4 linked regions of the Homo sapiens genome follow. The protein of the gene in region 1 purifies or fractionates together with the protein of each later gene. This does not show direct contact. Each region holds a gene or a part of one and is shown in the gene's direction. Other genes may lie near its edges.

Evidence for each region.
Region 2: the proteins of AHCY (region 1) and ATIC fractionate together in Homo sapiens (co-fractionation; one large-scale study listed by BioGRID). This does not show direct contact.
Region 3: the proteins of AHCY (region 1) and TBCE fractionate together in Homo sapiens (co-fractionation; one large-scale study listed by BioGRID). This does not show direct contact.
Region 4: the proteins of AHCY (region 1) and BLVRA fractionate together in Homo sapiens (co-fractionation; one large-scale study listed by BioGRID). This does not show direct contact.

The regions. Positions count from the first base shown.
Region 1 is NC_000020.11:34,283,062-34,286,355, reverse strand, and holds part of AHCY (adenosylhomocysteinase), read left to right. Parts: intron 1-721; coding exon 722-916; intron 917-3,294. UniProt on the Homo sapiens protein: Catalyzes the hydrolysis of S-adenosyl-L-homocysteine to form adenosine and homocysteine. Binds copper ions.
Region 2 is NC_000002.12:215,332,559-215,336,058, forward strand, and holds part of ATIC (bifunctional purine biosynthesis protein ATIC), read left to right. Parts: intron 1-791; coding exon 792-899; intron 900-2,360; coding exon 2,361-2,446; intron 2,447-3,476; coding exon 3,477-3,500. UniProt on the Homo sapiens protein: Bifunctional enzyme that catalyzes the last two steps of purine biosynthesis.
Region 3 is NC_000001.11:235,429,927-235,433,426, forward strand, and holds part of TBCE (tubulin-specific chaperone E), read left to right. Parts: intron 1-778; coding exon 779-878; intron 879-3,019; coding exon of another isoform or gene 3,020-3,172; exon of another isoform or gene 3,173-3,306; intron 3,307-3,500. UniProt on the Homo sapiens protein: Tubulin-folding protein; involved in the second step of the tubulin folding pathway and in the regulation of tubulin heterodimer dissociation.
Region 4 is NC_000007.14:43,793,180-43,796,679, forward strand, and holds part of BLVRA (biliverdin reductase A), read left to right. Parts: intron 1-3,500. UniProt on the Homo sapiens protein: Reduces the gamma-methene bridge of the open tetrapyrrole, biliverdin IXalpha, to bilirubin with the concomitant oxidation of a NADH or NADPH cofactor. Does not reduce bilirubin IXbeta.

The DNA.
Region 1 (3,294 bases):
CAGTTTCTGAATCTGAAATGGGGATGACAGCAGTACTGAAATCACAGGGTTGTTTCTGGGATGAAATGTGGTAGTTACCTGTAAAGGACTTAGTACAGGGCACATGACAGTGATCATAACGATAACATTAGCTGCTGCTTACTGAGTGCCTCATATGCGCCAAGCAAGTGTGAGCACGTGAAGTTCTCACAGCAGAACTGTGCAGTCTGCAGCTCAGCATTTCTTTGTTGTTTTTTTGTTTTTTGTTTTTTGAGACAGAGTCTCGCTCCGTCGCCCAGGCTGCAGTGCAGTGGTGCGATCTCGGCTCGCTGCAAACTCCACCTCCCAGGTTCACGCCATTCTCCTGCCTCAGCCTCCCGAGTGGCTGGGACCACAGGCGCCTGCTACCACGCCCGGCTAATTTTTTGTATTTTTTTTTTAGTAGAGACGGGCTTTCACTGTGTTGGCCAAGATAATCTCGATCTCCTGACCTCATGATCCGCCTGCCTCGGCCTTCCAAAGTGCTGGGATTACAGGCGTGAGCCACCGTGCCCCGGCCAGCTCAACATTTCTTAATAAATATTGGCTGTTATTTTTGTGCTAAGCCATGTGCTGGAGGTTGTTTTGGAGCAGTTCGGACTCCTCATGGGCACTGTTGGAGGCAGAGAGGCCTGCCAGATCAGAGGGTGGGCTGTGGGAGCGGGGCCCTGCCTGCCTTCACTGTTGCCCTGCCTGCGTGTAGGTGGACCGGTATCGGTTGAAGAATGGGCGCCGCATCATCCTGCTGGCCGAGGGTCGGCTGGTCAACCTGGGTTGTGCCATGGGCCACCCCAGCTTCGTGATGAGTAACTCCTTCACCAACCAGGTGATGGCGCAGATCGAGCTGTGGACCCATCCAGACAAGTACCCCGTTGGGGTTCATTTCCTGCCCAAGAAGGTGGGTTTATTCTTCTACCTCAAGCCAAGGGTCACGTGTCTAATCCTGGGATCCCCACACAGGGCTTGCCAGAGTTTATAAAGTGCTTGCCTGTCTGCCCTCTTAGAGGCCCTCATGGGGTCCTCTACAGTGCAGAAGTCATTCTCCCCATTGACAGAAGAAGAAACTGAGACCCACAGTAGGGAGTGGCTCCCTGGAGCACAGCAGAGCGGCAGGACCAGGTGGTGAGGAGAGCCTGGGCCTTGGAGCGGGACACACCCCAGTTTGAATCTCAGCCCCACCACTTACAGGCTGTGTAATCCAGGCAAATTCTTTCTCTGTCTTCATTTTCTCATCTGTGAAATGAAGGTAATAGCAACCCCCTTCAGGATTGTGAGGATTTCCTGAGATCATGAACCCACACACCCACAGGGGCTAGGCAGGTAAATGAGTGATGCCAGCTGAACAAGGACTGGAAGAGCTGAAGGGGTAAAGGGCTGGTTGCCACCTAGGAACCCAGGTCCGTCTGACCAGGGCTTCTAACCTTTCAGGAGAGCCAGAGATACCAAGATCTCTATACAAAATGATTTTCAAATACAGGCAACTCATTAAAATTTTATTTTGATTTTGATTTTTTTGAGATAGAGTCTCACTCTGTTGCCCAGGCTAGAGTGCAGTGACGTGATCTCGGCTTACTGCAACCTCCACCTGCCGGGTTCAAGCAATCCTCCCACCTCAGCCTCTTGAGTAGCTAGGATTACAGGCAGATGCCACCACACTTGGCTAATTTTTTTGTATTTTTAGTAGAGACGGGGTTTTGCCATATTGGCCAGACTGGTCTCGAACTCCTGATTTCAAGTGATCCACCCGCCTCGGCCACTGCACCTGGCCTCATTATAATTTAAAAAATAACTGGGTGGGTTAACTTGGACATGTGTATAAGCTGAGTGCAGTCTGCAGGCTGCACGTTGTGGCCTTGTAATAAGATGATACATCCCTGGCCAGGCGCGGTGGCTCACACCTGTAATCCCAGCACTTTGGGAGGCCGAGGTGGGCAGATCATTTGAGGTCAGAAGTTGGAGACCAGCCTGGCCAACATGGTGAAACCCCATCTCTACTAAAAATACAAAAAAATGAGCTGGGCATGGTGGCGCATGCCTGTAGTCCCAGGTACTTGGGAAGCTGAGGCAGGAGAATTGCTTGAACCCAGGAGGTGGAGGTTGCAGTGAGACGAGATTGTGCCACTGCACTCCAGCCTGGTGACAGAGTGAGACCCTGTCTCAAAAAAAAAAGATACATCCCTAAGCATGGCATCTCACTATGGTTGTATGGTCTGCATACTCATGAAGATGAAGTCCTCTGACATGAAATCCAGTGCTCACCCTAACACCCCATGCAGTCCACCCTTCCCTGGGGTCAGGACAGATGTTTTAGTCCTGGCTTTTCTTGGCAGTTTTACAGGTGAACTTTGCTTTGTCCCTTACCCTGTCCAATCCTCAGTCTCCTTATGAGCTAAATGGTAAGAGTAGCTCTTGCTCTTCCAGCCTTTTGCTGCTGGAGAAGCTGTGATGGGGTCTACATACCATCCCTTCATCTTTTGAAAGGCTGGTTCTACCAATTGAGGAAGACGCAGGAAGAGGCCTGGGGCATCTGCCTCCAGGGCCAGCCAACAACTAATCTCCCTGGAGCAATGTCTTGCTGGACCAAACATTTTACTCATAAGGACCTCAAGGCATACCTTGTTCTGTGCAGCTGGTTGTGGGGTTGAAAGATTCTCACTTGATCCCCATCTAATCCCAGTTGGGAGAAATATGGCTATGAGTTTGGTGAGAAATTGGTCAGGCCTTTGAAATGAGGGCAGGGTTGGAAGTGAAAGAGGCAAAGCTCCCGCCTCAGCACCTGACCCTGTCCTTACCACTTTTCTTCATCATTGCTAACATGTGGCTTGGGGACAGGACACTCTTGGCATCATGCCTCACATGCTGTATGCAGGCAAGGGACTAGGTACCTTGGTCAACAATGACAGAGAAGGCAGCCACCATTTATTAAGTCACCTACTGCACGAATGACTCTGAGTAGCACTGATCTTTGTAACAGCCTTGAGAGATGAGTGATCCATCCATCCTGCGAATGGGGAAAGTCAGGTGTAGAGACCGACTTGCTCTCACAGATGTTAAGTATCAGGCCAGGAATAGAACCTAGCTCTGTCTGTCCAAGGTGTTGACCTTAGGACGTGACACACACCTTCTGGTTCAGGGTGCTGGGAGAAGGAAAAGTTCTGGGCTAGTCCGGGCCAAGCAGAAGGTTGATTTCAATGTGTACTGTGGGGGTTGGAGGCCATCGTTCTACCTCTGGAACTGACGTGGACTCAGTTCTAGGCTGGGCCCTGGTCCTACTGT
Region 2 (3,500 bases), on another chromosome or scaffold:
CTTAAATTTTTTTGAATATTAACAAGTTCTAATGTGAATATAGACATGCTATGAAATCTGAAAGTCATCTGTTGATAACAGTATCAATGTAATAATATAAAATCTGATACACACACACACACAGAATTGTGTAATATTGTCAGGAAAATGAGGCAGGAATTTGTTTGTGGGGTGGAACCATAAAAGTTTAGAAAATAAAAGTGAAATGTCCTAATGCAATAGACTAAGTCTTGTGCCACATCTTTGAAAATGTAATGGAGTAAACATAAAGAAGTTCTTCTTTGGACTCTTTATCTGAAACTTCTTATAGTCGTTGTATGAGATACTTTGCTTCTGTGTTTAAATCATGAACTCCGCAATTGAGTTGTCTGTACACCACATCTTGCTGACAGTCCTCCAGCACATGATTTGTTCTCAGGTGTTTATTGGGTGTTAAAGTGATGTGAGTGGGGAAGAAATAAATGATGTGTGATATCAAAGTGATATCAAGCAGAACAGAGAGAAAGAGTGAGTCAGTAATGAAGTAAACGAGCTTCACCTACACGCTGGGTACTGTCAGGCTTCAGTGGCTCTGTGGTTTTGGAGGGCAGAGAGGAGATTTCCCTCACACTGCTCCCACAACCATATTTTTAGTGTATAATTATCTGGCTAAATAGATTTCTGTTTAATTTAGCACAGGCACTAGAAAATGTGCTGCGTAGACTGGGTGTTAAGAAAACTGTCTTGATTTAGGAGTTGACAGGTAGTAACTTTAGCTTTCTTTGTTTATGATTTTACTATTTTCTAACCAGGTGCTGCTGTTGGAATTCCACTCAGTGAAGATGAGGCCAAAGTCTGCATGGTTTATGATCTCTATAAAACCCTCACACCCATCTCAGCGGCATATGCAAGAGCAAGAGGTCAGACTCATAGGGCTTTTTGATTTGGGGGAGAAAGAAAAAGCAATATTTTATCCTAAATAGAATAAAGAGGATAGAATAAAGAAAAAATATATAGATATTCTGTATAATATATAGATGAAATTAAGGACTTCTATCTCTATGTAAATATACAGTTATTCTATATAATATAGTTTGATTAAAGTAAAATACCCTTTGTTTCATTATAGGATTTCCTATTTAATTTGTTTTATTAATATTTGAGATTGATTCTGTGAGTACCTCAAAATACATTTCTTTATAAAAGTGTATGTTAGTATTTTAGGCCGGGCGCAATGTCTCACGCCTGTAGTACCAGGACTTTGGGAGGCTGAGGCGGGCAGATCACGAGGTCAGGAGATCGAGACCATCCTGGCTAACACGGTGAAACCCCGTCTCTACTAAAAATACAAAAAATTAGCTGGGCGTGGTGGGGGGTACCTGTAGTCCCAGGTACTCAGGAGGCTGAGGCAGGAGAATGGTGTGAACCCGGCAGGTGGAACTTGCAGTGAGCCAAGATAGCGCCAGTGCACTCCAGCCTGGGTGACAGAGCGATACTCCGTCTCAAAAAAAAAAAAGTATTTGTTAGTATTTTAGTGTAATAAATGGAAACACAATTGGAATTTGGTCAATGTAATTTTGCTAATTTAGGCTATTGAATGCATTTGTTATTGTTTAATATGTGACCAAAATTGAAATTACAAAAAGCTATTCTTTTTTTTTTTTTTTTTTTTTTGAGACAGCTTCTTGCTCTGTTGCCCAGGCTGGAGTGCAGTGGCGCCATCTCAGCTCACTGCAACCTCCACCTCCTGGGTTCAAGCGATTCTCCTGCCTCAGCGTCCTGAGTAGCTGGGATTACAGGTGCGTGCCACCACACCTGGCTAATTTTTTTGTATTTTTAGTAGAGACATGGTTTCACCATGTTGGCCAGGCTGGTCTTGAGCTCCTGACCTCAAGTGATTCACCTGCCTCAGCCTCCCAGAGGGCTGGGATTACAGGCGTGATTTATGGCTCTTCTAACTTTACTACATTTGGTTAGAGTCATGTTTTATCAGAGACATTTACTTGTTGAATTTAATAACCCATGAATATCCCTTTAGTATTTCTGAAAGTTCTTGAGAAACTATTACCATAGTTTATCATCTACAGCAGTGGTCAGCAACTTCAGCTGAATCCAGCCTGCCACCCTGTTTTTGTGAATATAGTATATATAAATTGGTCCTTCACAGAAAAAGTTTTCTGAGTGTCACTCTAGAGGGTAAAATTAAAGAATACTTTCTTACTGGTTACTTCAGTTAAATGACTTATTGATCTGTTAAAATCTTATGTAAACAGTAAGATTAGCTTTAGAGTAATGAATTTTATATGACAGTGGAGAATTTTATTACTTTTTCTGTATCAGGATACTTTGTGATAAATACCTCATTTTAATTTTATTTACAGGGGCTGATAGGATGTCTTCATTTGGTGATTTTGTTGCATTGTCCGATGTTTGTGATGTACCAACTGCAAAAATTATTTCCAGAGAAGTTAGTGGACATTCATGTATCTTAATCTGTGTGTTGAATAAAGCTTTATTTGTTCATAATGTTAATTGAAACCATAACCTATAATATTTATATTTATAATATCTTTTAATTAGCTAAGTTTATCATTTAATGTTCATATTTTAAATAGAACATTAATCTTAAATTGTTAATTTTGAAATGTAGTGAATTATTGTTTCAGATGGATATTTGGCTGTTATGATGTTTTTTACTTATATATTTATTTTAAATTCTTTGTTGTCTTCATGCCAAAGTTACTGTTTCTGAAGAGCAGAAGTTGTAATTTTAGGTGGTGATGCGATATAATCCATCTTACTGCATAGTGGGTAAAAAACAGAAACTACATTAATAAACTTACCCCATCAGTTGAATACCAAACAGGTATTCCAGACAGGTGGGGGTACTGTTGGTAGTAGGAAGACAGGAAGAAAAGAGAAAAAGATTAAATAGCTCAGAAAGGGGAAAAAAATAAGCAGAGGTGAAGGCTGAAGGAGCATGTGGCTTGGCACTATTTTGTTGCTTTAGGATTCTTTCCATGGCCACTGCCATCCCTGGGTTACAGGTTACAGGAGGGCTGTGACATTTGTATCTTTCGTCATGTCAAATCTCTGATTTAATCTGGTCTTGCTGTTAAGGAAAACGCCTTGCCGGAAGAGGTCATTTAACCATGTACTAGGAGAGTCAGGACTAGAATGTGCTCTTGCTCATTCAAAACACTCCCTGAAGAAATATTTCCTCCTGAGGTACATGTGTTAAGAGCAAATCAGTCATATTTTCTTAGTTTAAACTGAAACGAACAAAAACTTGGAGAGGACAGAAAGTTAGGATCTGCTATACAGAAAGCTGTATTCTAATAGATTTCTCTTTTCAAGTATAGCGTTAGCATTGTTTGTTGGAGGCAGAAACCAGAATATGCTGCCACATTATTTAAGACTGATAATTGCTGCTAGATTTTTTTAAGAGGTGTTCTCTGATTTTTAAAAATAGAAATTAAAATTTAATATTTTTGCAGGTATCTGATGGTATAATTGCCCCA
Region 3 (3,500 bases), on another chromosome or scaffold:
AGGCTAGTCTTGAACTCCTGACCTCAGGTGATCCATCTGCCTTGGCCTCCCAAAGTGCTGGGATTACAGGCGTGAGCTACCGTGCCCAGCACAGGTTTCCCCTTTCATTCTTGAACCATTTTTGCATAGACATGTGAGTGTACAGTAAAGCCGGTAGACAGGCCTGAATGAGTTGTGCTCCCAAATAGAGCAAACGGGGGCAATTCAACCCATGGTGTCTCATCTTCTGGAAATACGGGCTTGTGTTTTTTAATAGTATCGTCTTTCAAAGTGACTGTCAGGATTGAATACTTTCTGAGATTAGGGTTTTGAGAAATAATTTAAGGGGCAATAATTTCATCCATCCTCATAGCCAAAGGGCAGACTCTATGTTTAGAGAAGCAAAATTCTAGCCCATGATTCAGTGTATCAGTAAGACTCTGGAGAACGGGACTTTGTTTTGCAGTATCCAGAGCCATATCTTGTGAAGCTGGAAGCTCACCTTGCAAATGCCTGAGTTTTGGGTTTAGGAAGCCTACAGCCGCATACAGGTGCCCTAATCCTGTGAAAGCATCTTTACACAGCTGATACCAAAAAGTTGTATGTTGTAAATGTTAAAAATTAGGTAGTCTTGATTCACTTGAATCATTAAAAAAGTGATTTTTAAAATATAATTCCATTTTAAGATTGAAACAAATCAAACCCCTTAGATTAAAACCCAGATTGTTGCTTTCAACAACTATTTCAGTTGGGTTTACTGTATAGAAATAAGTACATTGTATCTTTTTTTTCTACACAGTGAAAATAAACTAAAATTTCCCTCCGGTTCAGTATTAACTGGAACGCTTTCTGTACTGAAGGTTTTAGTCCTCAATCAAACAGGAATAACGTGGGCTGAGGTAATCATATTTCTTTGTTTTATTACACATTAATAAGCAATTAAAAATGTTTGGTTTAATAGAGAATTGTTAGTACAGTTTAATAGTACAACTGTGGCTTCATTTAAATCATCCCAGTATCTATTAATAGATAACAAGATTCATTAAAGTGCCTTATAAAAACGAGTTAAAAGAGCATCATAGTTGAGTTTTGCATCTGGAAATCCATGTCCTATCTCAGCTCATTTTGACTTGTTCTGGTGCCTTTATAAACAGTGGCGCTCCGTTATGGTATGAACCAGTATGTGCTGAGCTTCAAAAAGCCGTAGTGTTGGCTATTGACTAGCTTCCTGAGTTTTCCTGTTAGTTTTTTTTAGAACAGAAGCCAAGCAGCAGAAAGGTTCTCACATACTTTTCTTGTTAGAAGTTCGGCTCTTGGAATCCACTGTTCATTTTATACAGCCGGGCTCAAAAGTAGACTTGTGGGTCCTTGGCACAGCAGCATTTGGGACTTATATCTGGCAGTACTATTTCCTGTCTGAGGTGTACTGACTTCACACACCCAGAGCATTCCACTTTCTTTTTTTTTTTTTTTGAGACGGAGTTTTACTCTTGTTGCCCAGGCTAGAGTGCAATGGTGCAACCTTGGCTCACTGCAACCTTTGCCTCCCAGGTTCAAGCGATTCTCCCACCTCAGCCTCCCAAGTAGCTGGGATTACAGGCATGTGCCATCACACCCAGCTAATTTTGCATTTTTAGTAGAGACATGGTTTCTCCATGTTGGTCAGGCTGGTCTCGAACTCCTGACCTCAAGTGATTTGCCCGCCTCGGCCTCCCAAAGTGCTGGGATTAGAGGTGTAAGCCACCGTGCCCAGCCCACTTTCATTTTTATTTATTTATTTTTCTTGAGACAGAGTCTCACTCTGTTGCCCAAGGTGGAGTGCAGTGGCGCAATCTCGGCTCACTGCAACCTCCGCCTCCCAGGTTCAAGTGATTCTTCCGCGTCAGCCTCTCAGGTAGCTGGGATTACAGGCATGTACCACCATGCCCAGCTAATTTTGTATCTTTAGTAGAGACAGAGTTTCTCCATGTTGGTCAGGCTGGTCTCGAACTCCTGACTTCAGGTGATCCACCCACCTCGGCCTGCTAAAGTCCTGGGATTACAGGCGTGAGCCACCGTGCCCAGCCCACTTTCATTTTTATTTATTTATTTTTCTTGAGACAGAGTCTCGCTCTGTTGCCCAAGTTGGAGTGCAGTGGCATGATCTCGGCTCACTGCAACCTCCGTCTCCTGGGTTCAAGCAATTCTCCAGCCTCAGCCTCCAAAGTAGCTGGGATTACAGGCGCTTGCCACCATGCCCAGCTTATTTTTGTATTTTTAGTAGGGACAGGGTTTCACCATGTTGGCCAGGATGGTCTTGAACTCCTGACCTCAAATGATCTGCCTGTCTCAGCCTCCCAAAATGCTGGGATTACAGGCGTGAGCCACTGTGCCCAGCTTGGGCATTCCACTTTCAAACCAAGGGTGTAGAAATACATTCCCAGCCATGTTCACCCAGGAAGTGCCACAGAGGCCACTCAGTGAGAGACAGGTGGGCCCCTTGTGCCCTTAATATGCCCGTGGCCATGGAGCCTCTTTCCTAGGGCCCCTCCTCTGTGAGGCGCTTACTCCCTCTCAAGGTGTAGATGTAGCTGGAAGACAAGAAGGGGCCAGACACTGGCACTGGGGCTCACACCTGCAATCCCAGCGCTTTGGGAGGCTGAGGTGGGAGGATCACTTGAGCCCAGGAGTTTGAGGCTGCAGTGAGCTAGGATTGCACCTTTGCACTCCAGCCTGGGTGACAGAGCAAGACGCATCTCACCCTCCAAATAAACTAGGAAGGGCACACAGAAATTGAAGTGGTGGAGATGGCAGTAAAGTTCCAGTGAGAAAATTTAGAAATAGTTGGTGAGGCTGGTCATGGTGGCTCTCGCCTATAATTCCAGCCAGCACTTTGAGAGGCCCAGGCAGGAGAATCACTTGAGGCCAGGAGTTCAAGACCCACCTAGGCAACATAGAGAGATCCTGTAGATGCTATATATATATTATATATTATTATACATAATTATATAATATATAATAATTTTTTGTAATTTTTTTTTTTGTAAAAAAAAAAAATTAGGCTCATGCGCAGTGTGGTGGCAGCAGGCACGGTCTCGACATGCAGAAAGACGCCAGCAAGTTCGTGGATCTGTGCGTGCTGCAGAAATGCTCCACCAGCAACTGCATCATCAGTGCCAAGGACCACACATCCATGCGGATGAACGTGGCCAAGGCCAGTGAGGTCACGGGCAGGTTTAACAGCCAGTTTAAAACCTGTGCTATCTGCAGGACTGTTTGCAGGATGGGTGAGTCAGATGATTCCATTCTCTAATTGGCCATGGCCAAGGGCGTCATCTCAACTATTTGGTTTTTGAGATGGAGTCTTGCTCTGTTGCCTAGGCTGGAGTGCAGTGGTGTGATATTGGCTCACTGCAACCTCTGCCTCCTGGGCCAAAATGATTCTCCTGCGTCAGCCTCCCAAGTAGCTGGGATTACAGACGTGCACTACCACGCCTGGCTAATTTTTTGTATTTTTAGTAGAGATGGGTTTTCACCACGTT
Region 4 (3,500 bases), on another chromosome or scaffold:
CATAGTTTGTAGTTTTTGTTGTTTCTAAACAGGAATAACCATTTATTAAATATTTAGTATATGCTAGGAACTTGGAAACTCTGCTAAGCACTTCATATGTTATTTTGCTTAATTCTTCTAGAATCCCTTGGAGGTATATATTTTCTCTAGATGCTGTATAGAAAAATATGGCTCAAAGAAGTTAATTTGTGCCAGGTCACAAAGCTAATAACATGACTACTAAGTGGGAGGTAGAGATTTTAATCAAATCCTACAGGGCTCTTAAGTTCACATTTGTTCCCCTAAGCCATACCACCCTCCAGAAGGGAGAAATTAAGACTTTCCCAGGCCAGACGCAGTGGCTCATGCCCTGTCAGCCCAGCACTTTGGGAGGCCAAGGAGCTTGGGACAACCCTGGGCAACATAATGAGACCCTGTTTCTACAAAAATCTTTTACAACTTTTTTTTTTTTTTTTTTGGTGGGGTACAGAGTCTTGCTGTGTCACCCAGGCTGGAGTTCAATGGCACCATCTCAGCTCACTGCAACCTCCGCCTCCTGGGTTCAAGGGATTCTCCTTCCTCAGCCTCCTGAGTAGCTAGGATTACAGGCGCCCACCACCATGCCCAGCTAATTTTTGTATTTTTAGTAGAGATGGGGTTTCACGATGTTGGACACAATGGTCTCAAACTCCTGACCTCGCGATCCACCCACCTCGGCCTCCCAAAGTGCTGGGATTACAGGCATGAGTGACCGTGCCCGGCATACAAAATTTTTAATTACAAGAAAAAAAAAAAAAGACTCAGCTGGGCACAGTGGCTCACACCTGTAATCCCAGCACTTTAGGAGGCTCTGATGGATAGATTATTTGAGCCCAGGAGTTTGAGACCAGCCTGGGCAACATGGTGAAACCCCATCTCTACTGAAAATACAAAAATTAACTGGGTGTGGTGGTGCATACCGGTAGTCCCAGCTACTTGGAAGTTCACCTGAACCTTAGGAGGTTGAGGCTGCACTGAACCATGATCGGGCCACTGCACTCTAGTCTGGGCAACAGAGTGAGACCCTGTCTCAAAAATAAAAATAAAAATTCTTTAAAAGACCTACCCAGACAAACAAAAACCAAGTGAGTTGATCACTACTAGACCTGCCCTACAGGAAATGCTAAAGGAAGTCTTTCAAGTTAAAGTGAAAACACTAGACAGCAACACAAAAATATTGCTCTCTGGTAAAGGTAAATATATAGACAAATACAGACTTCCGTAGTATTGTAATGTTGACATATAAATCACTTTAGGCCAGGCACGGTGGCTCAAGCCTGTAATCCCAGGACTTGGGGAGGCCGAGGCAAGCAGATCATTTGAGGTCAGGAGTTCAAGACCATCCTGGCCAACATGGTGAAACCCCATCTCTACTAAAAATAAAAAAATTAGCTGGGCGTGGTGGCGCTTGCCTGTAGTCCCAGCTACTCAGGAGGCTGAGGCAGCAGAATTGCTTGAACCTGGGAGGCGGAGGTTGCAGTGAGCTGAGATGGTGCCACTGCACTCCAGCCTGGGTAACACCATGAAACTCTATCTCTAAATAAATAAATATCACTTTAAATCCTGGCATAGAATTTAAAAGACAAAAAAATACAAACTATGTTAATGGATGTATAGTATAAAAAGATGTAATTGGTAACATTAATAGCAAAATGGGGGGTCAGAGATATAAAGGAGTAGAATTTTGTATGTGATTGAGTTAAGTTGTTAGCAGTTTAAAATAGATTATGCAGTCGGGTGTGGTGGCTCATGCCTGTCATCCCAGCACTTTGGGAAGCCGAGGCTGGTGGATCACCTGAAGTCAGGATTTCAAGAGGAGCCTGGGCAACATGGTGAAACTCCGTCTCTACTAATAATACAAAAATTAGCTGGGCCTGGTGGCACGTGCCTGTAATCCCAGCTACTCCAGAGGCTAAGGCACGAGAATCGCTTGAACCCAGGAGGTGGAGGTTGCAGTGAGCCAAGATTGTGGCATTGCACTTTAGCCTGGGCGACACAGTGAGACTCCATCTCAGAAATTAAATACATACATAAATAAATAATAAAAATAGATTGTGCCTGTAATCCCAGCACTTTGGGAGGCTGAGGCGGGCGAATCACCTGAGGTCAGGATTTCAAGACCAGCCTAGCCAACATGGTGAAACCCCATCTCTACTAAAAATACAAAAATTAGCCAGGTGTGGTGGCGCGCACATATAGTCCCAGCTACTGGGGAGGCTGAGGCAGGAGAATTGCTTAAACCCAGGAGGCAGAGGTTGCAGTGAGGGAGATCGCACCACTGCACTCCAGCCTGGGCGATGGAGTGAGACTCTGCTCAAACAAAACAAAACAATACAAAACTGACAAGATGTAATGAAAGCAGTACTAAGAGAGAAGTGGATAGTTGTAAATGCTTACATTAAACAAGAAGAAAGATCTCAATTCAACATCCTAACTTTACATTTCAAGGGACTAGGAAAAGAAGAGCAAACTCAATCGAAAATTAGCAGAAAAAAGCAAGTAAAGATTAGAACATAAATAAAATAGAGAGTAGAAAAGCAATAGAAAAAAATCAACAAAACCAAGTTTTTTTGAAAAAAATCCATAAAATTGACAGAATTTTAGCAGATTAAGAAAAAAAAGAGTCGGCCGGGTGCAGTGGCTCACGCCTGTAATCCCAGCATTTTGGGAGGCCAAGGAGGACAGATCACAAGGTCAAGAGTCCAAGACCTGCCTGGCCAAAATAGTGCAACCCCATCTCTACTAAAAATACAAAAATTAGCCAGGCATGGTGGCACATGCCTATAGTCCCAGCTACTCGGGAGGCTGAGACAGGAGAATCACTTGAACCCAGGAGGTGGAGGTTGTGCTGAGGGGAGGTTGTGGTGAGCCGAGATTGCACCACTGTACTCCATCCTGGGCAACAGAGCGAGACTCTGTCTCACAAAAAAAAAAAAAAAAGAAAAGAAAAGAAAAGAAAAAAAGAGTAAAGACTCAAACTAAAGTCAGAAGTGAAAGAGGAGACATTACAACAAATGCTGCTGAAATAAAAAGGATTATATGAGACTACAATGAACACTTATACAATTGTTATACTCCAACAATCGGATAATCTAGAAAGGGATAAATACCTAGTAGCATATAACCTACTAAGACTGAATCATGAAGAAACAAAAATCTGAACAGATTTATAACTAGTAAGGAGATTGAACCAGTAATTAAACACCTCCCAATAAAGAAAAGCCTAAAACCAGATGGCTTCACTGGAGAATTCTACCAAGTGTTTCAGTCTCTTCAAAAAGTGGTCCCAGGAAAACAGGATATCCACATGCAAAAGAATGAAGTTGGACACTTACCTTACACCATATAAAAAATTCACTCAAATGGATTAAAGAACTAAATTTAAGACCTAAAACTGTAATATTGTTAGAAGAAAACATGGGAAAGCATCAAGATATTGGATTTGGCAATAATGTCTTACATACGACATCAAAAACACAGGC